Linked DNA regions of Homo sapiens. The protein of the gene in region 7 interacts with the protein of the main gene of each other region in a biochemical or structural test. Each region holds a gene or a part of one and is shown on either strand. Other genes may lie near its edges. The genes, in order: NRXN3, ARHGEF26, SLCO1A2, CLDN1, SBF1, AGMAT and CARD11.

The links.
Region 1: the proteins of CARD11 (region 7) and NRXN3 interact in a test that uses a peptide from one of them, tested with the Homo sapiens proteins (one large-scale study listed by IntAct).
Region 2: the proteins of CARD11 (region 7) and ARHGEF26 interact in a test that uses a peptide from one of them, tested with the Homo sapiens proteins (one large-scale study listed by IntAct).
Region 3: the proteins of CARD11 (region 7) and SLCO1A2 interact in a test that uses a peptide from one of them, tested with the Homo sapiens proteins (one large-scale study listed by IntAct).
Region 4: the proteins of CARD11 (region 7) and CLDN1 interact in a test that uses a peptide from one of them, tested with the Homo sapiens proteins (one large-scale study listed by IntAct).
Region 5: the proteins of CARD11 (region 7) and SBF1 interact in a test that uses a peptide from one of them, tested with the Homo sapiens proteins (one large-scale study listed by IntAct).
Region 6: the proteins of CARD11 (region 7) and AGMAT interact in a test that uses a peptide from one of them, tested with the Homo sapiens proteins (one large-scale study listed by IntAct).

Annotation. Positions count from the first base shown.
Region 1 is NC_000014.9:78,173,373-78,176,872, reverse strand, and holds part of NRXN3 (neurexin 3), read right to left. Parts: intron 1-3,500. UniProt on the Homo sapiens protein: Neuronal cell surface protein that may be involved in cell recognition and cell adhesion. May mediate intracellular signaling. Functions as part of a trans-synaptic complex by binding to cerebellins and postsynaptic GRID1.
Region 2 is NC_000003.12:154,236,390-154,239,889, reverse strand, and holds part of ARHGEF26 (rho guanine nucleotide exchange factor 26), read right to left. Parts: intron 1-3,500. UniProt on the Homo sapiens protein: Activates RhoG GTPase by promoting the exchange of GDP by GTP. Required for the formation of membrane ruffles during macropinocytosis. Required for the formation of cup-like structures during trans-endothelial migration of leukocytes.
Region 3 is NC_000012.12:21,332,118-21,336,078, forward strand, and holds the start of SLCO1A2 (solute carrier organic anion transporter family member 1A2), read right to left. Parts: upstream 2,801-3,961; 5' UTR 2,710-2,800; exon of another isoform or gene 2,593-2,709; 5' UTR 2,531-2,592; coding exon 2,471-2,530; intron 1-2,470. UniProt on the Homo sapiens protein: Na(+)-independent transporter that mediates the cellular uptake of a broad range of organic anions such as the endogenous bile salts cholate and deoxycholate, either in their unconjugated or conjugated forms (taurocholate and glycocholate), at the plasmam membrane.
Region 4 is NC_000003.12:190,319,647-190,323,754, reverse strand, and holds the start of CLDN1 (claudin-1), read left to right. Parts: upstream 1-1,308; 5' UTR 1,309-1,548; coding exon 1,549-1,771; intron 1,772-4,108.
Region 5 is NC_000022.11:50,447,768-50,451,035, forward strand, and holds part of SBF1 (myotubularin-related protein 5), read right to left. Parts: intron 884-3,268; coding exon 776-883; intron 678-775; coding exon 466-677; intron 1-465. UniProt on the Homo sapiens protein: Acts as an adapter for the phosphatase MTMR2 to regulate MTMR2 catalytic activity and subcellular location. Promotes the exchange of GDP to GTP, converting inactive GDP-bound Rab proteins into their active GTP-bound form.
Region 6 is NC_000001.11:15,582,252-15,586,393, forward strand, and holds the start of AGMAT (guanidino acid hydrolase, mitochondrial precursor), read right to left. Parts: upstream 2,801-4,142; 5' UTR 2,717-2,800; coding exon 2,445-2,716; intron 1,145-2,444; coding exon 942-1,144; intron 1-941. UniProt on the Homo sapiens protein: Hydrolyzes linear guanidino acids to form urea and the corresponding amines. Displays specificity for substrates having a negatively charged head group and short chains including taurocyamine, guanidino propanoic and butanoic acids.
Region 7 is NC_000007.14:2,907,868-2,911,367, forward strand, and holds part of CARD11 (caspase recruitment domain-containing protein 11), read right to left. Parts: intron 2,299-3,500; coding exon 2,183-2,298; intron 1-2,182. UniProt on the Homo sapiens protein: Adapter protein that plays a key role in adaptive immune response by transducing the activation of NF-kappa-B downstream of T-cell receptor (TCR) and B-cell receptor (BCR) engagement.

The DNA.
Region 1 (3,500 bases), on a different chromosome or scaffold from region 7:
TACCACCCACCTGCCCCACCAAGACCTCACTCCCCTCTGAAGAAAGAGAACTAAGAAGGCACCCCAGGCAGCCCCCACAGCAGCAGCTGCAATACCCTTGGAAAAGGGCCCACAGCCCACCAGGCAGCATGATGGAGTAGAAAGAGCCCTACCCTGGCAGCCAGGAAACCTTGATTCTAGTTTTGTCTCTGCATCAAACGTGGTGCATAACTTTGGAAAAGCCATGTAGTCTCTCTGGGCCTCCATCTTGTCATTTGTACTTGAGGGCACTGAATAAGATGACAGATGATTCATCTCCCTTTTTCCTCTAACACTATAACATAAGGGTCCCATGCTTGGGCTCTGGCATGAGACAGATCTGAATTCAAATCCTCGATCTGTCATTTTATTAGGTAACTTTAAGTCTCAGTCTCCTCAGGTAATAATAGTATACTGCATTGAGTTGTTTGGAGAATTAAATGAGATACCGAGTGTTAAAAAAAAAAAAAAAAAAACTTGGAAGAGAACTTTGTAAATAGTAACTACTGCAGAAATGATAGCTATATCACGACTATTACTACCACTACTATGATGATGATGAGAATGGTGATTACTAATATTAGAGGGATCTCAAAGGAGGCAGAGTCATCTGAGCCAGGGATAGAGAAGCCCTTTCTACTAAACTACTGAAGTTGAGCATGTTGCAATTCCTCCAGCAGATCTAGACATTCAGGCAGGGCTAAGACAACCAGAGGCAAAGTCCACCCTTCCCAGAAGACAGGCCACAAGTGCTAGAGAAGAAAACTCCAACACTAAACCCATGTGGTTCTTTCCTCCAATCGACAAACATTTGTTGAGCACCTACTACGTGTCAGGAAATGTCCTACGCACTAGGAACACCACAATGAACACAAAGTCCTTGACCTCTCAGAGCTTGCATTCTAGAGGGGTAAAGAGACGAGATCCATCTTAAATGTTTCAATATATCATCGTATAATATAATATTAAATAATGATTCACCGATTAAAATTAAAGACAGTGTCATGGGCTGGAAAGCAGCCAGGAGGTTGGGGTAAGGGGACTATTTTAGAAAGCTGGTCAGGAAAGGTCTCTCTGAGGAGTATAATTTGAGGAACAACCTGCAGGAAAGGGCTGGGAGTGGGCCCCATCCATAGTCCCTGCCCCGAGCTCAGCATGGCCAACCTGCCCCGAGCCCAGCATGGCCACCTGTGGCTGGCCCAGCCACAGCACCGCACTTGCTTCATCCTCAGAGCAACAGAGCTGGCCCTCAAGGCTCAGAGCTGCAGCGCAACAGTTCTTCCCCCAGCAGGTCCCGGACCACAGCAGGAACCGGACCACAGCAGGAACCGGACCACAGCAGGTCCCAGACCACAGCCGACCACGGGCCAGCACATTTCTAGGCAGTGAGGTTTTAGAAGGAATGCTTCTTCTTTTGCAAGTCTCCTATCCACACCTGAGGGGTCATGTAAGGAGAACACGGCCGGGGGATACCAAGAACAATCTCTTCTCTGCATTGGGCACAATAATTTACCCCCAAGGCATCCTACTCCCCATTTATCCCCTTTCTCTGGCAATGACGTAACCCTGTCTCCCTAACTCCTCAGGGTCAGCCCCAAGAAGGGAGAGGGATGCTAGAAAGGTAAGACCATCAGCATTTTGCTCTGAGGATTTTGTGATTTTTTTCTTTTAGGCAAAATGTTTTCCAATTTCACTTATAATTACTAATAAAGAGAGACACACCTTCAGCTGAAGATGGGAAAATGGCGTCCGGTAGTTAAGGCAGCCAGAGCCCAGGAGAAAACAGGGGCTGGGCTGCTCTCACGGCCGAGGGTGATTTCAGCTCCTTCAGGCTGCAGCCTCCAACAAGGCCGAGCCGCCCAAGAGGTGGCTGATGCCAGGGGAGCAAGACCACCCTCCCGAGCTCAGCCCCAGGCTCTGTCAAGGCAGCAGGGAAAACCCTCAATTTCACCCACCTCATCCCCTTCTCCCCCTTCAATCTGTATCCGCCCACCAGTCATCCATGAGCCACCCACCCACGGGTTCGCTTGGTGGACGTGGGGATCTCATTTGAGGCTTCCTGCTGGAGGCAGGAGCAGTTTCTTCCCCTCTACCCTCCTCTCAACTACCTTGAGGACTCTTCCCCACTGACCATCCCTGCTTCTTGCCTTCCTTCCCCGTCACTACCACACCTGTCCAGAGCCACCGTATGAGGCTGGATACGCACATATCCAACAAACACAGCCACACCACACAAAGAGGCAGGCAGCCTCCTGCTTGAACCACACGCACAGTGTTGACAATCCTATGTTGTCCAATTGGAGGCACGCTGGTGCTTGACAAAACACAAACACCCTTCCAGTCCCCACCCGTAAACCAACACAAAGGCCACCAAGAATTTCAAGACCCAGAATCATCTGTAGAGAGGAGAACTGGGTCGGACAAAGACATTGTTCCATCCTCCCAACTAACCATCACAACTCTCTGGGATATTCTGCAGTGCCCTCTGGTTCGACACAGCCCACTGATCAGAGCTGTGCGTGTTGGTGTGTGTGAGAGAGTGTACACATGTGTATGGGGGAGGGGGCTGTGGCTCTACTGTCCAGGCATCAAATCTCCCCGGAGGTAACCCCGTCAGACTCTGCCTCCCCCACATAACCTTCCTCCAATGTACCGCAAACATATATTTCATGGATGGTTAAATTGGATCATTATCACTGGGTGCTTATTTGGTCAAAAAAAATTATTAATGTTATCTACCCCCATTCCAATCCCCTGCTTGTGAGGTCCCCTCCCACAAAGACTCTCCAACATGCTAATCCCATGAACTGCGACACACGACAGCTTTAGGGAAAGAATAATGGCGAGAAGAAAGAAGACCGCGGTTGCGGAGAGGAAAAGAGGCTCTAACGTGACCGCAGTCCCCATGCAAAGATGGGGGGAAGGAGCCATGGTGGAGGTAGAGTGGGGAAAGAGGTTAAGGGGAATGAAACCAAGCAAAATGAAGCCCTTGGCGCCTGTGTATGTGACAGAGACTGTGTGTGCAAGAGCGTATGCCAGTGTGTGTGTGGATGTGCCGACTTTGCCCTCCTATCAGAAGGCTGCATCCGTGTGGCATGTAGGAAAGGCCATCGCACGACTGTTGTGTTGCAAAAAAAAAAAAAAAGCAAGGAAAAAGGGAAAAAAGAGCCGCAGAGCCATCAAAATCAGAATTTTTTTCATGAAGATGGAAAGGGCTGGAGGAAGGGGGGGTGCGCCTAGGGTGGGGGGAGCAGTGTGTGGAAATAGAAGGCAAGATCATGGCAGAATTGGGGGAGGATGGAGGGGGAGATTGGTGGTGGGATGAAAAAATTTCACACACACACAGAGACACAAGCACACACAATGCCCAGACGCCAACCCGACCGCTCCACTGTTCATCCAAGACTGACAACCCGTCCCCCATCTCTCCGCTGCCTCTCCATGCCCCCAAAGCTGGTGCCGATGGATTTCTGTATCTCAGT
Region 2 (3,500 bases), on a different chromosome or scaffold from region 7:
AACCCATCCTTGTGTCCCACACTCAGAGCCTCACCACCTGTTTCACAAACCACCAGGACTAATCTCATTATGCCCTCCATTCCTGCTTAGGCTCAGGAACCCCAATATCCTTCTTTCTCCTGCACTCCCATTCCCATCGCACTGTGAACATGCCCAATCTGGCCCCACTTTTTTCCACTCCTCAGCTGGTTCCTGAACCCCTTCCACTGTACCCTCTGGGAATGCAATTCCCTCATTTAAGAAACTAGTAAAGTCTTCTAAATACTTGGCCTCGTCTCTGAACCCTCCCTTCACATTCTTGCCTTAAAAGAAACCTGGCTCTCCCTAGAGAACAAGGCGTCTCCTGAGAGCTCTCTGCCTGCTTGCTTTTTATTCCTGCTTCTATACAATGATCACTTCCTCCTCCTGAAACATCATCAGCTTTGAAGCTCATGGCATCAGTCTCTAACTCATAACTACAGTCATCTATAGACCCCTGGATCGTTTCCGATCCTCTCCCTTGAGTTTCACTGCTGGCTCTCTGTCTCTCTCCAACAATACTTCTTCATACACACACACACACACACACACACACACACACACACACACACTCTCTCTCTCTCTCTCTCTCTCTCTCTCTCTCTCTCTCCCTCTCTCTCTCGGTCATTTACATCAAGTCCCCAACACTACTTCTTTCTTGAAGTCTCCTGTAAAGGATCTTTCCATTACCCTGTACCCTCAATTCCCCGACTTTACTCTCCTCCGATGATCTTGTTTTCTGCCCTACTTCAGCCACAAATCCATGGTTATACCTTAGTCCTTGTCATTACCATCAACTACAAACTCTCTGTAATCCCAGTGTCAAACATACCACTCTCTAACCAGCATGGCCTTTCTTTCCAACTCACCTCCTCTAATCCTCAACACCAACCATTATTTAACTCACCAGTTCTTACAACCCATTGACTCTACAACCTTCCGCCTCCCCCCCTTAATTCCCTCATGTCCTCTTGTTCATGCATATTAAATTAGCTAGCTTGCATTTCTTGGTACCCAGTTAAATCACATCTTGCATACACATTCATCTCCTTGATTGTATTTGCCTGGCAAATCCCGAACCTGGTGACATACAGCTTTTCCTCTACTCTGCACCTGCACCCTTGCGAGTGAACATGAGAGTGCTCAATAAATAACTGTCACATAAGTGGATGAATATGCAATAAATTCTAATATACGCTAGGAATATCGAATAATTACCTCATTTAATAATAAATGCAAATGAATGATGTCAGGGGAGCTTAGAGAAAAGAAAACTCCTTGTGCCTAGTCCAGTACACTAGGAGGAATTTCAGAACAGGCCACTTTGCTCAAGATTTCCTGGAATTTATTTTCCTCAGAATGGACATCTACCTGTCAACCACTCTTTTGTCATGCTCCTTGAAAAACTTTATAATCTTTTCTAAAATTTGGTTTGATAGATTCTGCCCTCAAAAAACAGCAAATGCAGTTATCTATAAAAGCAAAATATTGCCTTCTGATCAAGCCTAATTGTTCCTAGGATAGTAATCTGTATTAATTAAAAGATTGTGTGGCACGATTATCTCCAAAGTTCTCCTGAGACTGCCTACAGACCAGCACACCCACACTTGGATATGTCAAATATTTCTCACATCCAAAATGAGACTTATCAAAGTAGACATGATGTTTATAAAAAGAGGAAGGTGAATAATACGCTTTACAAACAAATACGGTCATTTTTTAAAAGACTATGTTTACTAGAAACAAAGCAGTCAATTTTTAGCAACACAGAACAAGTTTATCATGTTGTATAGATACTATATCAGACATGCATTGAACAGCATAGGACTCAGGATAAAAACCAAAACCAGGATAAAACAGCAAACATAACAAAACCTCAACAACAACAGCATCAAAAACAAGAGAAAAAGAGGATGAACTGAGGCTTCTTTGTTACTATTTTCTCTCTGCCCCTTATGATTACTCTTTTGGTCCAATTTACAAGTTAAAAAACCTGTTAGTCAAAGGCACCTGTTTCTGTTTAAAAACAATTCTGCTTCAGAAAGAGAAATGGAAGCAACCTAATATTGTGAACATGGGGTAAGGCCCTAAACAATGACATGTGTGTAGGCGTTGTAGGTATTTCCAAAGAAATAAAAGTCAAAGAAATGAATATGCTATAAAGTCATCATTTGAGATGACTCAAATTCGAAAATGTTGTCAACATAAAGTGGTTTCACCTATCAAGTCATCCCAATAGAATTCAAAACCAAGGGTTCACAGAAAATGAATATAAGCTAATATGAATAAACTAGTTAAGTGTGTGTGTGTGTGTGTGTGTGTGTGTGTGTGTGACGGAGTCTCACTCTGTCACCCAGGCTGGAGTGCAGTGGTGCACTCTCAGCTCACTGCAACCTCCGCCTGCCAGGTTTAAGTGATTCTCCTGCCTCAGCCTCCCGTGTAGCTGGGATTACAGGCATGCACCACCATGCCTGGTTAATTTTTGTATTTTTAGTAGAGACAGGGTTTCACCATGTTGGCCATGCTGGTCTGGAACTCTTGACCTCAAGTAATCGGCCTCCCAAAGTGCTGGGATTACAGGCCTGATCCACCACACCCAGCCAGCTTCTTTTTCAATTTTCAGTCATAAATGCTTTAATTTCTTGTCTTTGGGGGATAAAGACAGAAGTAGATACTTTTTTAAAATGTTTATTAATTGTTCTCTTAAGCAATGACAACTACAATGCCACTGATTAAGACCCAGGATGGCTGCTGGGCTCAGTTTATGCCTGTAGTCCTCTCAAATGTCCAGTTTGAATGATAAACTGTGGCTGCCCTAATCACAGCTATATGATTTCACCTCAAGTGTTTATTTCCACACATCTGCATAGTTGTGTCATTGAATATGCCTGAACAAGGAACTTGGCCCACTGGACTTCTGGGTCCAAAACAAAATGCAGGAAACATGTTGGCCTTTTTGTTTGTTTTTAAAGTAATTTACTATCACCCAATATCCAATATCATTACTTCGTCTAGGCCAGTAAACTTCTGCATTATGCAATAAATAATGTAGGTCTTTACACCTTCCTTACTGCTCTTTTAGGAAATCTACTATAAAAAGAAACAATTCCATTTAACAGTAGTGCTTCAGTAGAAAGAGGAGCAGAAACTCTATAGCCAGGTGCAGCTGTTTAAAGCCCGTTTCCCATCTCTGCTTATTTACCCCATGTCCAATAAGTATGGAGCAGGCTAAACAGGGTTGGGAAAGAAACCCCCTTCCTGAGGGAAGCTGATGCTAATCAGACTTCCCCATGTTTGTCTCTATCGTTTAACAAACATATGGTTTATATAGTCTCTGAAACAATTTGGAACATGTAATGAGGAAGTTAAAGTGCTCAGAAAAGGGCAAATGGAAAAACCATCTTTCCTTGCATGGAGAAGTTTATATGGAGACTTCCTTTGATTGTCTTATATGTGCTCCAAGTTTACCAGCTGCTCATCAA
Region 3 (3,961 bases), on a different chromosome or scaffold from region 7:
GTATAGCCTCAGAGAAGTCCTAAAAACATGTGTTCAAGGTGGAGTACAGCTTGCTCTTATATATTTTAGGAAGACATAATGCATCAATCAATACATGTAAGATTTACATTGGTTCAATTGGGAAGGTCAAGATAACTCAAAGCAGGAACTTGCAGGTCACAGGTAGATTTTAAAATGTTCTGATTGGCAATTGGTTGGAAGAGTTATTATCAATAATAAAAAATTATTTCCTGTTTACAATCAGGGCTTGTGGAGACCAAGGTTTTATCATGCAGATAAAGCCTCTAGATACGCAGGCTTCATAGAGAATGGATATAAATGTTTCTTATCAGACTTAAGGTCTGTGTTGATGTTAATGATGGTTGGTTATTCCTGAATTCCAAAAGAGAGGAGGGTATAAAGAGGCATGTCCAACACCTCCTTCCCATAACAGCCTAAACTTGTTTTTTAGACTAACTTTGGAAGGCTCTTGACCAAGAGGAGGTCCATTCAGTGCTGGGAGCAGGGGGTGGGAGGGTTGAATTTTATTTGTGGCTTAGAGGCTGTATATACTGATTCATAAACTACCATCTTTCTCACTGTGTCTTCACATGGCAGAAAATGCAGTGAATCTCTCTTAGTCCTCTATTATAAAGCCACTGAACCCATTCATAAAGGCTTTACCTTTGTGACCTAATCACCTCTCGAAGGCCCCACTTCCTACTGCCATCACCTTAGAAATTAGGATTTCAACATGGGAATTTGGATGGGACACATTCACACCACACAATACATCTAAGCCAAAATTTATCAATTATTTTTGTGAGACCTAAATAGAAATTTATGTGAAAAGGACCTAGAAATTTGAATAGCATTCTTAATATGAATCAAAACTGATTGACTACAGCATAGTATGGCCATATCTCTAGCTATTTTTTATATTGAATACCATTTGTGGATATTCTCTCTTCCCACTATAAACCTTCTCAGAGTGTATTCTTAAGAGCAAACTATTTTCACCTAGTTTTATAAATCAGATTTTATATTTAAAAGCAAGTCCTACTAAATCAAGTACAAATCAAATTTGGAAAAATAATTTATTCTACTTTACATGTTAAGAAAAGAAATTAGATGGATCATGACCTCATTGCTTTTCCCCTAAAACACATGGGTTGCCTAACTAGTTTGGTTTTATTCGCAGAGTGAAAGAAATCAGTGGCTATTCTGACTCATGTCTAGTGCTAAATAATCTCTGTATTTATAAAGCTGGTCCTACTAGCTTCTAGCAATAATGCCCTTTCAACTTATTTCAACAACAAAGTTTAAAGCAAATTTGTTAAAAATAGTTCTTTCATGCTTCCTAATGAATTTTGCTTAATGAGTATATTTCTAAGTTCAGAGAAACAGAGAAACCTAACTTGCTATTAAGCAATTGCCTCTCACTTTTACCTGATAAACTTGTGCTTACAGCATTTTGTCTTAACATCCACATTAATATCTAACCTTGCTAAACTCCAAAGCAATCAAAAATTAAAGACCTCTTGTTTATAAATACCACTTGACTTTTCTCCACAAATGCTTTTAATATTAATAGCTAATATTTATTGAAAGTTTACAATATTCCAGTCATTGTTTCAAACATAAAAGAATCCTATAAGGTGGGAATGTTGCTATTACCCTTTTCAGATGAGAAAACTGAAGCACAAAAAGTTTTTCTTAATTAACATACCATTTCAGGCAAGTCTATTTTTTTTAGATTTATATCATAATTCTCCAATTTTGTATACATGTTTAAATTTCCCCAACACACATATAAATGGAAAACAAACTTCTGATAGGGAGAAAATGAGTGACAGTGTCTTAGTTTTGAAACCACTTGCAGGCACTAGCTATAGAATCAGGACAAATGTCCAGATCCCTTGGTTTATCATAAATTCAAATTTGTTTGAATATAAATGACTTTGAAGCTAGAAAACAGAATTTTCTCTGAAATAGAAAAAAAAATCAGAACAGCTGACAAAATGGCCATTTTTCTTACAGGAAATTATTGTTATGTTGCCAAAGCTTAAAGAAAACATTTGTTTTGCTGGGTAATTGCATACAAATCAACAAAGCATTTCTGTGCAATGAGCCATTTTCGGAGAGTGACTCCCACATTTCTCTGGGTTAGAAACCCTGCAAGAGTGAGCATGGCCTTTGATCCAGAAAAATAAATCCTGCCACAGTATGTGTGCCTGGAAATTTTTAGGATCCTGTCTTCCATTTAAGTCTCTCAAAGCCATTTAGGACTAACTTGCCTGAATCAATAATCCTGTGTAGACACACCCTCAGTTATAAAACCAACTTCTTTAAAGCAAGAAATTATCAATAGAACAGGCAATATGGCATTAATATTAGATCACTTCATGCAGATAGGAGCAATTTTACCAGGACTGTCGTATTTTAAAAACTAGTGTACATGCACATATATCCACATACAAAAATTCCATACCTTCAACTTGGAAAGACATCTTATTCTATGGGTTTCAATTCTTTTCTCAGTTTCTCCCATGTTGCTCTTCAGGGTGTTCCAAGCTATTTATGTTTTAAATCTTGATATGTCTTACTTCTACCCTTTCAAGCAAACAAAAAAATATGTTAAATTAACTACAAAATTGTAAAGCATCATTCTTTTGAAGTAAGTGCTGAAAATGAACAACATAATTGAAATCCATTGCATTACAAAAATACCTGGAACGCTTTAATACAGATTAGAAAATCATGGTGTTAGAGAAGATTTAGTTGTTGGTTTTCTATTTCAAAAGGTACATCAAATAACTTTAGTGACTCTTTAGTGAGATTAAAGATATTAGAATTGTTTGTTATGATCTTGCAAAATAATGGTCACATGGTTAAAAGAAAGCTTTTCACTTCTCTAGCCAAAACAAATAGTACCAAAAGACTTCCATGAAAATAGCTACTTTTAATAACACACATACTTTGAGTTGTGTTTGTACTAAAAACCTGCTTCACTAACCCTACCAAGGCTCAAAAATCTTTTTTTGGCCAGGCTCTCTTTTCAAGTTATTTGCATTCCAAGGCTTCCCTAGAGTCTCAGGAAGGGAAACACTTTCTGGGGCACTGCTGATACATGGAAACCTGGGGAGACACGGAATTTTAATCATGAAAACAACCTAGTAAAAATAACAAACAATTCTATGATCTGGAAAATAATCCCACGATTGCAAACTAAGATGTAAGACTTAGGAGATTAAACATATAAATGGGTATCTATATGTAGCTATACGTAATAGGTATAGATATATGTGGAAATATATGTACAGATGTATAACATACAGGCACACATTTTTATATGTAAAACAAAAAGTTGAATTAAACTCAAATAAATTCTACTAATCCCATCAAAGATTTTGTTTGTTTTACATCTTGAAACTAAGGCAATAATTTGTATCAAAACCAAAGTGTTTCACTTTGGCAATATTTATTCTAGTTTCTAGAATGATTTCTTAACAGTATCCCCAGCATTAATTAATTAAGTCCTTTAAACAATATCCATTTAACAAGTGATCCTGAATGGCACTAATTTTTTAAAAAACCAACTGCTTTACCTCTACAAATGTGCTGAATCCCAAACACACACACATCAAGGCATAGTCGCTGCACTATTATGTTTGAGTTTTGTTATTTTAACACATTCTCTCACAGATACAACAAATACTTATTGAACATCTACTCTGTGCCAGTCATGGTGCTACGCACCAGCATTCAGCAGTGAGCAAGAAAGCCAAGTACGTGCCTACAGAGAGTATAAACTAGCGAGAGAAGTATGTTTCTGTGGAAGATACTTGGACCCAGATTCCAAGGAACTTAAACTTTCATTGGGAAAGATAAAACTTTTAAATAAAACACATTGGAATAGAACCAGACAGTGTAGAAGGAAATGCAATTTGCTTGGTATGTAAGTGGTGAAAAAATTCACAGG
Region 4 (4,108 bases), on a different chromosome or scaffold from region 7:
GAAATGAAGGTGGTGGGGCTTGGCCTTTCTTCCCATTCCCACCTTGAGAATTTGCACCTTTCCTTCTCTGTCACCAACTAGCAGTTGCCATGGTATATAAGGGTATATCTTATTTTATCCTTAATATGTTTATTTCTGCTTCCAAGATGCTTCTGTTTTTACTAAAACCATAGAAGCTTCCCCTCCCACCACACTCGCACCACACACAAAAAGCAGTTGGAAAAACATTTCAATGATTCCTAACCACAACAGCACTTCTGACTAACTACAAAGAAGGAAGCTTTGGAGAAACATAGAGGGAAACTACAGTCCCAGCGAGACCGAAACCGGAGGGGTGAGATAGCCAGTCACAGTAAAAGCTGGAACCAGAGCCCAGACTTCCTCAACTCCAGCCCAGTCCTTTTGCCACTGGGGAAACGCTGTTTACATGTCCTCACCTGCGACGAACAACATTTGATAACTCACAAAATTAACACCTTTCAGGGAGAGCGGGGCACTGGCCAGGTCCCTCTGATAATGAATTGCTGCTCTAAGACATAACTGCTGTGGGGAGGAGGTTGGTGTTTGGCGGGGAAGGGCTGCTAGCCTGCAGTTTCATAAGGACAATAATACATCAAAAAGGACAATCATAGATCAAAGGGGATATTTTGGGTCAACTTGATATGTAGTGGAAAGCAGATTGGGAGGGGAGCCAAGTACTGGATATGCTCCGTGCGTGAGTGTGTCTGTGTGTGTGTGTGTGTGTGTGTGTAAATCATGTTGCTCTCTGGGTCTGTTTCCCAATCTGTAGAGTGTAAAAGTCTCTGAGGCTCCTTGCAGAGACAAGTGATGGAACGACCTTGACAGAAGAGAGCAGAGAGAGGAAAGAAGGGGGAGGAAGCCAAGCAAAGGAGAGAGAAATGGTGTGATGGGGGAGGAGACGCGGAGTTGGGTAGAAATGCCTTTTAATAAGATATTGGGAAAAAAGTATTAAACCTAAAACTGCAGCTCTTGAAGGATCATTTTTTCATCTTTGTGTTAGGATTTACAAGTACAGTGCATAGTAATTTTTGGATAATTGGAGTGAATGAATGAAAAGCGTGAAACGCCTTACAGGAGCGAGAAGATCCACGAGAGAAAGCGAGCAGGGACGCAGCTCTGGTGCCTGGTCCTGCCGGGTGGTCCCCACGCCGCCAGCCGCGCGTTCCCCAACCGGGCGCTCCCGGCGCCCTCTCGGTGAGCCGCCCTGAAACCGCCAGGGGGCGCTCCCCGGCTGCCGGGGCTGAGGCGGGCGGAGCTGCTTTAAATCGCGGCGCCCAGCGGTTCTGCGTCTCAGTTCCCGAGCCTGGGAGCAACCGCAGCTTCTAGTATCCAGACTCCAGCGCCGCCCCGGGCGCGGACCCCAACCCCGACCCAGAGCTTCTCCAGCGGCGGCGCAGCGAGCAGGGCTCCCCGCCTTAACTTCCTCCGCGGGGCCCAGCCACCTTCGGGAGTCCGGGTTGCCCACCTGCAAACTCTCCGCCTTCTGCACCTGCCACCCCTGAGCCAGCGCGGGCGCCCGAGCGAGTCATGGCCAACGCGGGGCTGCAGCTGTTGGGCTTCATTCTCGCCTTCCTGGGATGGATCGGCGCCATCGTCAGCACTGCCCTGCCCCAGTGGAGGATTTACTCCTATGCCGGCGACAACATCGTGACCGCCCAGGCCATGTACGAGGGGCTGTGGATGTCCTGCGTGTCGCAGAGCACCGGGCAGATCCAGTGCAAAGTCTTTGACTCCTTGCTGAATCTGAGCAGTGAGTGCACCCCCACCTCACAGCGGCCGTCCAGAGGCCCCAGTCCCCCTGCAGCTCCCTTATGGGCTCATTCTGTTGTGTGATTCCATGGTTATCAGTCTTCAGTTGATCAAGTCTTCTGATCATGTGCTCTGTCATAAGGAAATGAAGAGAATCCTGGTTTGAGGAAAGCGACGCCCAGGCATAAGCTCTAGTTTTGCCTCTAACTCCCTGGGTGACACTTCTGCCACTCTAGGTGTGGCTTCATCCTAAATTCCTATGCTGGTGGTTCGAGTTGAGGGAGTGAAGGCCAAACTTGAACTTGAGCTCTTAGACCTCTCCTAGGCATTCCGAGATTTGGGGTAAATTGAGGATTGGTAGAGTTCAGACAAGAAAATGGGATGACTGAAAAAGTTTGAAGCCTGGTAACTTCTCAAGTGTGCACGCTTAAATAAATAATCCTCAAGTATTAGATATAACTTTTTAACCTTTAATATGATTTTTTCATAGTAAAAGTTACATTCCTACTGGAAATGTCCTATCTAAGTGTCTTCTGCTTATGCTTGAGGTTGATTCTTTTAATTTATAAGATCCAGTTAGTGCAGGGAGGCCCCTTGCAAGACTCTTTGGAGAAGCTGCTTGAGATTCCCCCGAAGTTTTAATTTTCAGACCCAAGGTCTTCTGTAGAGGCTGACGGTGTAGTGCTATCTTGGAAAGAGAAGGTTGGTGGCAGGTGGGGAAAGGCTGACAAGAAAGGTTCTAAATAACCTGCGCAACATAATACAAAGAAAAAAGTAAAGGCACTGAAGGGAAATGCAGCAAAATAGTCATAGCTGATGAAATCAGAGGTCAGCTGGGAGTGGAAGGCAGTGAGAGAGAAAGAAGAGGTGGGTCTTCCTTAGGTTTCCATCTTCCACAAAGAAATTTCTGTGTAATGGATGTTCAGTGACCCCCTGTAAAACTGGAAAGGATTGTATAGAGAGACATATTTCTAAGGATGGTGGGAAGAAGGATAATAGGATAATTGTTTTACTTTGTTTTTTAAATTAAAGGTTTCGAGTTCCTTGTCCGAAAAGTCATTAAATTCCCATTTACTTAGATAATAATGATTCACGGCTGGAGTATCTTCCTTGAGAAATCACATTAATTGTCTTATATCATGTGTCTGTTATGCCCTTTAACTCACTTGAAGAAAAGATCCCTTAGTCTTTGCCTAGATGAACGTGACTGCCCACTGGCCCCCATTGCATGCTAAGGGTGAAAAGTGTTGGCATTGTTCAAGTTTACTTAACTTGTTTTGTCTACCTCCTATCAAGGGACAACTTTTAATAGTGTATATCAAAAGCCATATAGTTTAGAGTTATTAAACCTGTTCCAAATCTGTTTGAACACCTTGAATACCTGTGGCATTTGCTCAGTCAATGTGCATGGTTGTTTTGAGTGTTATTATTTCAGCTTTTGAAGGTTCTCATATCAGGACTTCTTTACACCAAAACCAATCCATAAGTTTAGTAATTATGTGTTGCTCATTGCCCTCAGGGGTTATATTTGTACTTATAAAATGAAAAATTTGGTAATAATTATTGAATTTCTCCATGGAAAGATAAATATATTTAAGGAAACGGTGTCAGGCATTTTAGGTACCACGTTAAGGAATTGGCAGGTGGAGGTTTCTAAGGACAATTCCAGAGAGGTCTCACTGTCAGTTTTATTCCTCTGATCAAAATAGTTCCTTTTCAACATCTTTAAATAGGTTTTCTTTTAACTTCCTGAAATGACCAAATGAAATCAGATTGATCTATGTTGTAAATACTCAAATGGATCATCCTTACACATGATAATGTGTTAAAATGTTTTACTTTCATTTTTTGGTTAATGTAGTTATTACAGTTTTTAAAACTAGGGTGAAAGGACTAAATACCTACCCCCCCACACACACTTTAGAGATGTCTTCCTATTTTTTTAAAACTCCAGATCAGAATCCACTTTTATTTTACTTAAAGCCATAGTTTATCCAAGGTGTGGCTTAGGCCTTTCTCTCAAAACCCATTCTCAGAAGAGGGACCCTTGACTCACAGGTGTTCTCCTCTCACCTGCCGTGACTCACGGGATGCTTTTGGATAGAACCCAGGAAACCTTACTTCATTTCTCTGCCTGAGCAGTGGTGTTTACGCCCACCAGCTGTAGAGATCTGGGATGGTGATTCATTGGCTGGTTTTGGTACAGTTTTGTTACATGTAGAGATGAAAAGGGTTATGTGTGTATATTTAAGCAGTATCACTCAGAAAAAAGCTGCATTTCATTAAGTGTGTTTAGGTGAAAAGCTTAGCTGTGGGTTTCCCGAAATTGTACCTTGCC
Region 5 (3,268 bases), on a different chromosome or scaffold from region 7:
CAAAGAAGCCTTTGATGGGGGGCTGCAGGCCCAAGAAGACGACGCCCAGAAAGGAGACAGTGAAGGGCGCCTCACACCCTCCAGACTCCAGGGAGCATCCCCACACCAGAGCCTCAGGGTCTTGGGAAAGCAGCCCCCTACACAGGGCAGGCGCCCTTACGAGGAGAGGGATGGCCAGGCAGGTAGATCTGTAGAAGCAGCCACGGCAGCAGCTGCCTGGGATGGATCCTGCCAGACTCCAGACTCACGGGGGCCCCACCACTGCCCTCTCTCTACTCCTCCCTCAGCCACTGCAGGCTGTGGTCAGCTGTGGTCACCAGTTCGACACCCCAAACCCCTCCCAGTGGTGGTGTATACTTAAGCAAGCTCCTCAAAAGCACCCGCAATCTCCCACCAGAGGACTGCCTGGGACCCCAGAACACCAGCTCAGAGGTGTCCATGTGGCAGTGGGAGGTGCCCTCATACCTGTTCTCACTCTCTGCTGTCTGGAACTGGCTGTACAGGGTGCTGGTGCTGCGGCGGGCAGCCTGACGGGAGCCGGATGTGGTTGAGCCACTACTCTGGTCGCTGTCCAGGCTGAGGCTCAGGGTGGAGCCCACGGGCCCCTCCTGCAGGTACACACCCAGCGAGCGACGGTGGTGGGGTGCGGTGGACACAAGGAGGGAGCTAGGGGTGCCCTGGGAACAGGAGGTTGGGACTTGGGTCAGGGCTGGACAGACTCCACTTTCTCCCAGCAACACGCCCACCGTGGACGCTCACACTGGCCCTCACTCACACGGCCGTCTGGCCGGCCCTCGAGGCGCTGTGCAGCCTTCACCCGGTCCCAGGTGTCCTTCCAGCGCTCAGCGGGTTGGCCCAACTCTGTCTCCAGCCTCTGCAGCTCCTGGGGGAAGAATTAATGGCAAGTTTATTCAAAAGGAAATATCCAGACTAGAGCACGAAAAGACAAAAGGAAAACACAGGAAAGAGACACAACGGAAAGGCCTAACGCGTGTGTGACTGGCCACAGGGGGAGGTGGCAAGAGGGAGGGAAGGAATATGCAAAATGAATATTCGGAGACAACAGTTGAAAAATTTCCCAAACTAACCAGAGGCATCAAACAACATAATCAAGAAGCACTACAGACCCCAACAGGGTAAGTTAAAAACACACACCCCGGCCAGGCGTGGTGGCTCACGCCTGTAATCCCAGCACTTTGGGAGGCCGATCACCTGAGGTCAGGAGTTTGAGACCAGCCTGACAAACATGGAGAAACCGCATCTCTACTAAAAATACAAAAAGTTAGCCCAGCATGGTGGCGCACGCCTGTAGGAGAATCGCTTGAACCTGGGAGGCGGAGGTTGCGGTGAGCCGAGAACGCGCCACTGCACACCAGCATGGGCAACAAGAGCAAAACTGCTTCTCAAAAAAAAAAAAGACCACACAATACTGATCTTCAACACTGCAGGGTCCACAATGTCCAGCTTACAATAAAAGAACAGCAGAAAAATGGAGAAAAACATTAAAATAGACCCTGAAATGAAACAGGAGTTAGAACATACAGTAAATTCAAGAGAGTGATTTTAGGGCCAGGCGCGGTGGCTCACGCCTGTAATCCCAGCACTTTGGGTGGCCGAGGCGGGTGGATCACGAGGTCAGGAGTTCAAGACCAGCCTGGCCAAGATGGTGAAACCCCAACTCTACTAAAAATACAAAAATTAGCCGGACGCAGTGGCAGGCACCAGTAATCCCAACTACTCAGGAAGCTGAGGCAGGAGAATCACTTAAACTCAGGGGGCGGAAGTTGCAGTGAGCCGAGATCACACCACTGCCCTCCAGCCTGGGCGGCAAAGTGAGATTCTGTCTCAAAACACACAAACACACACACACACACACACACACACACACACCCCAAAATGGGACAGAAAAACTGCTGAAAAACAAAGAGAAAAGTCCCAAAACCTGCCAGAAGAAAAAAAGACATGCTCTCTTTGAAAGAGCAACAATAAAACTGACGGCTGACTTCAAAAGAGAAACACGAGGCCAACTGTCAACTTCCAGCCATGACAGATAATTAGTCTGAACAGCCCTCCCTCCATATGCAAATGATGAAACTGGACAAGAAGGGGAAGCCGTTGTTTCCAGATGTCAGACAAGCAGTGCAGCTTGAGAGACAGGAGCCTAAGACATGGGACCACATAAGATGGGCCCCACAGTCACCTGTTTTCTGCCCAGCCACAGTGCAGGGAGGCAGGGCCAGAGCAACACACGGGAGCTTGCTGAGCCGAGGAGGCAGAGACGGGACGTCCAGGGGCGCTAGTGCAGCTGGGTCTGCAGGGCAGCCCACAGAGGGGAGGGAGCACCACAGCAAAGGGGCTCTAGAAATCTAGACAGAGCCCTCCTTGAGTCGTTGGCCAAATTAGGCTGCCATGTGCAAAGCAAGATGTCACAAGGCCTGGCAGAGAACAGCTACTAAGAAGCTATGACCTGACGCCGGCAGCAGTGGCTCACACCTGTAATCCCAGCACTTTGGGAGGCCAATGCGGGTGGATAACCTGAGGTCAGGAGTTCAAGACCAGCCTGGTAAACATGGCAAAACCCTGTCTCTACTAAAAATACAAAAATTAGCTGGGCATGGTGGCGGGCACCTGTAATCCCAGCTACTCGGGAGGCTGAGGCAGGAGAATTGCTTGAACATGGGAAGTGGAGGCTGCAGTGAGCCGAGAGTGCGCCACTGCACTCCAGCCTGGGAGACAAAGTGAGACTCTGCCTCAAAAAAAAAAAAACAAAACTATGAGCTGAACCCAAATTCTAGAGGAATGCTAAAAGATACTGGACTTCCAAAAAGCCAGTGTGGCAAGACCTTACCGAAGACACAAAGACACAAAACTCCAACTGAAGCCCTGGAGAGGCCACACGCCTTGGGCTGCTCTATCCCTGGAGCTTCTCTAGAGGTGCTGGAGAGCTGCCCAAACAAAGCTTAGAAACAAGCTTCAAACAGACCAAGCTGACGCACAAGCTCATTACCTACCTGCGAGAATAAAACCCAAGACTCTAAGCTTAAAGAAAGACAACACAGGCAGGGCACAGTGGCTCCCGCCTGTAAGCCCAGCACTTCGGGAGGCCGAGGAGGGAGAATCGCTTGACCCAAGGAGTGTGAGAACAGCTTGGGCAACATGGCAAGACCCCATCTTTATATATATTTTTAAGTTATGTTTCAAGATTTAAAAGAAAAGATGGACATAATGGTTTATCAGATGGGGAATCTCTACAATAAAAAGCGTTAAA
Region 6 (4,142 bases), on a different chromosome or scaffold from region 7:
GTGAAATTCTGTCTCAAAAAAAAAGAAAAAAAAAAAAGATATGCCATGCTTGATGCTGGGCATTTCATGTGCACTTTCATTATATGCCCCTCACATCATGCAGTGAGTAGGTGTTACTGTGATCATTCCCATCTTACAGGTGAGGGTGTGAAGCATCAAGCACGGTATACAGCAACATTGCTAGGGAGAAGTGCAGCTGAGACTTCAAACCATGCCATCGGGAAACCACACTCCTCCCACTATGCCATGCAGGCTAGGCTCTCTAACTTGGCAAAAATGAATTTGGATATTTAGGAAAAGATCCCTGTCATTTTAAGTATTTGTGAACAAGAGAAAAAGTGAGAGTGGGTCAGGGGTGAGGATAAGGGGAAAGCTGCCCTATAGGTTGATGTAGACCCTGAGCAGGACAAAAACACCCTCTTTGCAGTTCTCCTCGCAAATAAAGTCATTAGAAACATCATCTTGGCCAGGCGCGGTGGCTCATGCCTGTAACCCCAGCACTTTGGGAGGCCAAGGTGGGCGGATCACTTGAGGTCAGGAGTTCAAGACCAGCCTGGCCAACATGGCAAAACCCCGACTCTACCAAAAATACAAAAATTAGCCAGGCATGGTGGTGGGCGCCTGTAATCCCAGCTACTTGGGAGGCTGAGGCAGGAGAATTGCTTGAACCCAGGAAGTGGAGGTTGCAATGTGCCGAGATTGCACCACTGCACTCCAGTCTGGGTAACAGAGTGAGACTGTCTCACACACACACATACACACACACGTGAAATATTCTCTCCCCAGGGATTAAAATAAATGAATTACAATGCTCTCTTTCCTACTGTCTGCACATTTGCAGTGGCTTGCAGGGGAGAAGTAGCTGTACTCAAGCCCCTGAGTACAGGATAAGTAAACCCTGAGTGCAGGGAACTACTCTGGCTCTTGCAGACTGACATTACCCAAGGTCAGAGGAATACAGCCAGCTGCTACAATTTTCTCATAGGCCTCTTGAATTCGCCGGCAGCTGTCCTGAAGGTTGTAAAGATTGACATTCACATCGCCTAGGTCTGCAACCATGAGGGACTGGAAGGGGAGGGCCCCCGTGCTAGGATTGACTGTCCCAAGCATCACTGATTCTTCCCGGATGCGGCGAGGTCCGAATCTGCAGAAGGAAGAATCATCCTGTCAGCCATCATCTGCAGAGATTTCAGGCTTTGCTTAGGCCAGGGCTTCTCAGCCTCAGCAATTTGGGGCCAGATGATTCCGTGTCGCGGCATTGCATAATGGAATGCTTAGCAGCATCCCGGCCTGTACTCACTAGGTGCCAGTAGCACCCTTCCTCCAAGGTGTAACAACCCAAAACGCCTCCAGATACTGCCAAATGTCCCCGGAGTGCAAAACCGCCCCACTTGAGAATCACCGATCTAGGCTATGTATCGAAGAGACTAAATAAGTGTACTAAATGGCATTAGTGAATTTCATGATCTACCTGAGTCTCAGTTTCCTAATTTGTAAAATATTTACCTTGCACTGTAGTAAAAATTAAATGAGGTAATCTATGCAAAGCACCTTGCACTTAGGAGACATTTAATAAGTGCTGGCTTTCATAATTCAGATCAGTACGGTCAGATATAGTGTTGCTGAGCTGAATCAGAAATTGCTGACGTTCAATAACTAGGAAGATGAATTTTGCTTCCTCCGACTTGATCCTAGGAAAATTGCCTTCATTTGAGCATTTCTTGAGTCAGGTGACATCTTCAGATTTGGGGAAGGGGCAGCCAGTTTCTGCTCTCAAATGCAATGTCACCTGCCACTGTAAGCTGGGGAGAGGAGAGGGGAGGAATCCACAGCAGCCATCCCAGCAAGGCCCCAGGATGGGGACACAGAGAAGGTTCAGGCTCCAGAATCCCTTCTTTTTTCTTTTTTTGAGACGGAGTCTCACTCTGTTGCCCAGGCTGGAGCGCAGTGGCGCAATCTCAGCTCACTGCAACCTCCGTCTCCCGGGTTCAAGCGATTCTCCTGCCTCAGCCTCCCGAGTAGCTGGGATTACAGGCCCGCGCCACCATGCCCGGCTTTTTTTTTCTTTTTTTTGTACCTTTGTAGAGACAGAGTTTCACCATGTTGGTCAGGATGGTCTCGAACTCCTGACCTCGTGATCCGCCCGCCTCAGCCTCCCAAAGTGCTGGGATTACAGGCATGAGCCACCGGGCCGGCCAAAATCCCTTCTTGACCAATGATGACACTAAGATGTGGGAGGCCACGCCCATGTTGAGCCCTGGGGTTTGCTTATTGAGGGTCCAGGTAAATCAACCATCTCAAACCATAAGGGGCATTTTGGAGCCGGCCACCAGCTTCCAACTCGACCCGGGGCCAGCAGGGGCGCCTGTCTCGGTGCTTTCCATGCCCGACAGCCAGCAAGCAGTCCCTCCACGTGTACCCGGCCCCCGTCCTTCCGGCCTTACCTCGCCCCAGGCCGGTTGGAGGTCCCAGTATCCAGGGGCACCCCGATGAAGGCAGCGTCCAGCCCCTCGGGGGAGGTCTGCACCGGCAGGCGCATCATGGAGCAGACGCCCACCGGCCGGGCCACGAACTCGGGGCTGGGGGGCTGGTTCCGGGGCGCGTCGGAAGCCTGGCGGCTCTGGCGGCGCCCCGGATGAAAGAGCCCTGCGGCAGGACGCGCGCCCACGCCGGGCCCCGGGCCCCGGGCGCACCCGGACGCCAGCAGCCTCAGCATTGCCGCGCGCGGCCAAGACCTCACCGACCAAACCGCCCGCGAGGCCGCCGCGATCTGGCTGGTCCCGAACGGCGAGGCGAGTGTGCACGCGCCAGAGCCGGAACCCGAGCCGGCTCAAAGGTCAGGGGCGCCCTAGGATCAAGGCGGGGGAGGGGCCCCAGGACCTGCCGTGCTCTCCCCTCAACCCCTCTGGACTTCAGCCTCTGGCAAATAGAGTCAGGCTGGGGGTGCCCACTGGCCGGCACTGTGCCAGGGGTGTCTGCGCCCTGCTCCCCACTGTGGCCTTCAGCAGCCTCTTCTCCCATTCAGAGTAATTGTTTGTTTTTATAGAGACGGTCTCACTGTGTTGCCCAGACTGGTCTCCAACTTCTGGACTCAAGTGATTCTCCCACCTTGGCCTCCCAAAGTGCTGGGATTACAGGTGTGAGCCACAGCAGCCACCCCAGAGTAATATTTTTAAAGCCAGAAAGATATGAAGGAAAATGATCTTTCTCTAAGCCAGAAAAATAGGAAATGCATTTTTTTAAATAATGTATTTTTAAATGTCCAGGGATAGGAATCTCAAGAAGCAGTAAAGTTAGTTAGCTACTTAGCTAGCTAGCTAGTTATTTTGAGACAGGGTCTTGCTGTGTTGCTCAGGCTGGAGTGCAGTGGCACAATCATAGCTCACTGCAGCCTCAAACTGCTGGGCTCAAGCAATCGTCTCACCTCAGCCTCCCGAGTAGTTGGGACTACAAGCGTGAGCCATCGCGCCTGGCCAGTAAAGTCTTTTTAAATAACCTTGTTAAAAAAGGACTAGAGGCCAGGGGCGGTGGCTCACGCCTGTAATCCCAGCACTTTGGGAGGCTGAGGCGGGCGGATCACGAGGTCAGGAGATCGAGACCATCCTGGCTAACACGGTGAAACCCCATCTCTACTAAAAGTACAAAAATTTAGCCGGGCATGGTGGCAGGTGCCTGTAGTCCCAGCTACTTGGGAGGCTGAGGCAGGAGAATGGCATGAACCCGGGAGGCGGAGCTTGCAGTGAGCTGAGATCAGGCCACTGCACTCCAGCCTGGGCAACAGAGCAAGACTCCGTCTCAAAAATAAATAAATAAATAAATAAATAAATAAATAAATAAATAAAGGACTTACAGGCAAGCTGTAAGGAAGGTCACAGTGCCAGAGAACCTGTTACATCCTCTTTATTTCTAAGGGGAAAGAAAAACACACGTGGAAAGAAAGAAGTGATTTGTAATGGAATTATGTGAGCCATTTAGCAGTATTATATATATTATTTTTTCTGATCTCTAAATGTTGAGATTGAATGGAAAAGGCTCACATTTGCATTTACGTTGCAACCTCTACACAAAGGTTGCACATTAGGCCAGGCGCGGTGGCTCACACCTGTAATCCCAGCACTTTGGGAGGCCGAGGTGGGCGGATC
Region 7 (3,500 bases):
AGCCAGGCATGGTGGTGGGCACCTGTAATCCCAGCTACTCGGGAGGCTGAGGTAGGAGAATCTCTTGAACCTGGGAGGTGGAGGCTGCAGTGAGCCGAGATCGTGCCACTGCACTTCAGCCTGGGTGACAGAGTGAGACTCCGTCTCAAAAAAAAAAAAATACTCCATACAGTATTTTTGTTGTGATACACACTGCACCATAAACACATTCCCAGGCAGGACAGATCAGGGAAGGGGGTATGTACCATGCTAGTATTTCTCATGCATTAAATGTATTATTGTTTCTTTGTTTCAACTCTTTTTTTGTTAACAGTTTGCAAGGTTTTCAGCTCTTGCCACCTTCCTAGCCTGTATGGATGGGCCCTATTGTGTGTATTCACTCCCCACAGACCGACCCTTAGGTGACGTCTACGTTTTGGCTATTGGGAGTAACGCTGCTGTGAACACGGGCGTGTATATGTCTCTTACAGACCCTGCTCTCAATTCTCTTGGGGATATGCCCGCAGGTGGGGTTGCTGGATTATATAGTATTCTATTTTTAATTTTTGGGGGCATCGCCATGCTGTCCTCCACAGTGGCCGCTCTCTTTTGCATTTCCAGCAGCTGTGCACCGGGTTCCGACGTCTACCCTCCTCGTCAACACTTGTCAGTTTCTGTCCTTTTGGTCCTGGCCAGCCTAACGGGTGTGAGGTATCGAGGGGGATGCCCGTCTCTTTTGCTCACTGCTGCGTTCCCCAGAGCCTAACCCTTCACAATGGCTCAGTGAGTATCTGGTGAAAAGGAATGAATGGGCCTAAACTCTCAGTCTGTGATTCCCTCTGCAAAATGGTGGCAGGACATTTATTTTGCAGGTGCGTGCGAGGAGGGGCGGGGATCCGAGATGAAGCCACTTAAGGGCCAGTCTGTCCTCATCACCCAGGCCCCAAACCTCAGCGCCGTCCTTTCGTTTTTTTTTTTTTGTTTTTTTTTTTCTGAGATGGAGTCTCACTCTGTCGCCCAGGCTGGAGTGCAGTGGCTCGATCTCAGCTCACTGCAACCTGCCCCTCCCACGTTCAAGCGATTCTCCTGCTTCTGCCTCCTGAGTAGCTGGGACTACAGGTGCCCGCCACCACGCCCAGCTAATTTTTTTTGTATTTTTAGTAGAGATGGGGTTTCACCATGTTGGCCAAGCTGGTCTCAAACTACCAACTTCAGCTGATGTGCCCACCTTGGCCTCCCAAAGTGTGGGGATTATAGGCGTGAGCCACCGCGCCCAGCCTCTGGTTCTCTGGAACCCCAGAGTGAACCCTTTCCCGAATCCTGCAGGCTCGACCCTGAACACGGATTCGGAGTCAGACTGCCTCTCATCGCCTCTCAGACAGAAGCCCGGCCCACACCGCCACCCTGCCCGTGTCCAGAGGTGAGAGGTGCGTTTATACCCTAAAGTGGACCATGCCACCTTCAGTGGCCTCCAGATGCACCCAGAACAAGATGTCGCAGCCTCCCGTGGCCCTGCATGGCCTGGACCCGCTGCCCCTCACCCCTCAGCCTCTCACTCTCCGTCCCTCACCCTCCGCCCCTCACTCCTCAGCCTCTCACCCCTCTGTCCCTCACCCTCTGCCCCTCACTCCCCAGCCTCTCACCCCTCCGCCCCTCACCCCTGCGCCCCTCACCCCTCCACCCCTCACCCTCTGCCTCTCACCCCTGCGCCCCTCACCCCTCAGCCTCTCACTCTCCGTCCCTCACCCTCCGCCCCTCACTCCTCAGCCTCTCACCCCTCTGTCCCTCACCACTCCGCCCCTCACCCCTCCGTCCCTCACCATTCCGCCCAAACATCTGTCTCAGGGTCTGAGCACCAGCTGTTCCCCTGCTGCCCAGATTGCGTCTTCTTTCTCATCTCCTAGGCCCCCCTCACTGCCATGGGTCTCGCTGATGGATACCCCAGGCCTTCCCGGACCACCCTGGGTGATGGGCACTCCGCCCCGTCCCTCCCAGCTCTTGTCCCCTGGGATGCGCCCCATATGTGAGTCACCATCTCGGCCGCTGTCCTTGGCATCAGCTCTGCAAGGTCAGTCCCGTACTTGGTGAGGGTTTACAAAAGGGGTGCATGAGGTGGGGGCACACAGGCCTCCTGCGATCCATGGAGGCTTGGTGGGGTGCTAGGGACAGGAGGGGACAGCCCTTAGGGGTCTGGGAGCCCTACCTGAACCTCTTGATGTTCTTCTCACACACCCGGATGAAGAGCACGATGGGGTAGATGTTGGACTTGATCAAGTCTCTTGTGCAGCCGATCCCAGCCTCCAGCAGGCAGTGCTTGTTCTGCGGGCACAGCGGCTTTGGTCAGCAGCAGCCCACCCACCTCCCGCTCCTGTGAAGGTGCCTGCAGCGGGGCCTGGATGCAGGGTTGGGGTCTATAGCGGGGCGGGAGCCCTGAAAGCCACCTGCCGCTGATCCAGGAGATGAGACCCCCACATGAGTCTGGACACTCCAGGACTCTGCTGACCACAGTGATGTTCATGGGCAGAGATGAGGCCCCGGACGGGGTGAACCAGGTGGCGTGAATGAGTTTGAATGAAACACCTGCTACCAGCCGGGCGTGGTGGCTCACGCCTGTAATCCCAGCACTTTGGGAGGCCCAGGCGGGCCGATCACTTGGGGTCAGGAGTTCGAGACCAGCCTGGCCAACACGGCAAAACCCTGTCTCTACTAAAAGTATAAAAATTAGCTGGGTGCGGTGGCCCACGCCTGTAATCCCAGCTACTCGGGAGGCTGAGGCAGGAGAATCACTTGAACCCGGGAGGTGGAGGTTGCGGTGAGCCGAGATGGTGCCACTGCATTCCAGCCTGGGTGACAGAGTGAGACACTGTCTCAAACACACACACACACACATACACACACACGCACACACACACACACCCCAAAACACCTGCTACCCTAGCCAGCCTTCAAGTAAGAGGGTAGGGAACACATGAAGGGTGAGGCGGCGAGGCTGGCAGGTCCCAGGAGTATCTGCAAGGTTCTCAACCATGAGCTCATCATTTTGAGAAAGGGCAATTTCTGCTTTGCTGAAGGCATCACTTAAAAAAAAATTCCACCAAATGTTGGCATGGTGGCTCATGCCAGCAATCCCAGCACTTTGGGAGGTGGGAGGATTGCTTGACGCTAGGAGTTCGAGACCAGCCTGGGCAATATAACAAGACCCTATCTCTAAAAAAATTAGAAAATCATTAGCTGGGCATGGTGGTGAGTAACTGTAGTCCCAGCTACTCGGGAGGCAGAGGCGGGAGAGTTGCTTCAGCCTAGAAGTCGCGGCTGCAGTAAGCCGGGATCATGCCCTGCACTCCAGGCTGGGCAACAGAGCGAGCCCCAGTCTCTAAATAAATAAAACATCAAACTTTGCATTGGAATAGAACATAAACACAGCATTCTAAGCATGCAGCTCAGTGAATTTCACAAACTGAACGCAGTCTAGCACTCGTGTCTGGAGGTGGGAATGACCCCCCTCGCCCAGGGTCTCCTTG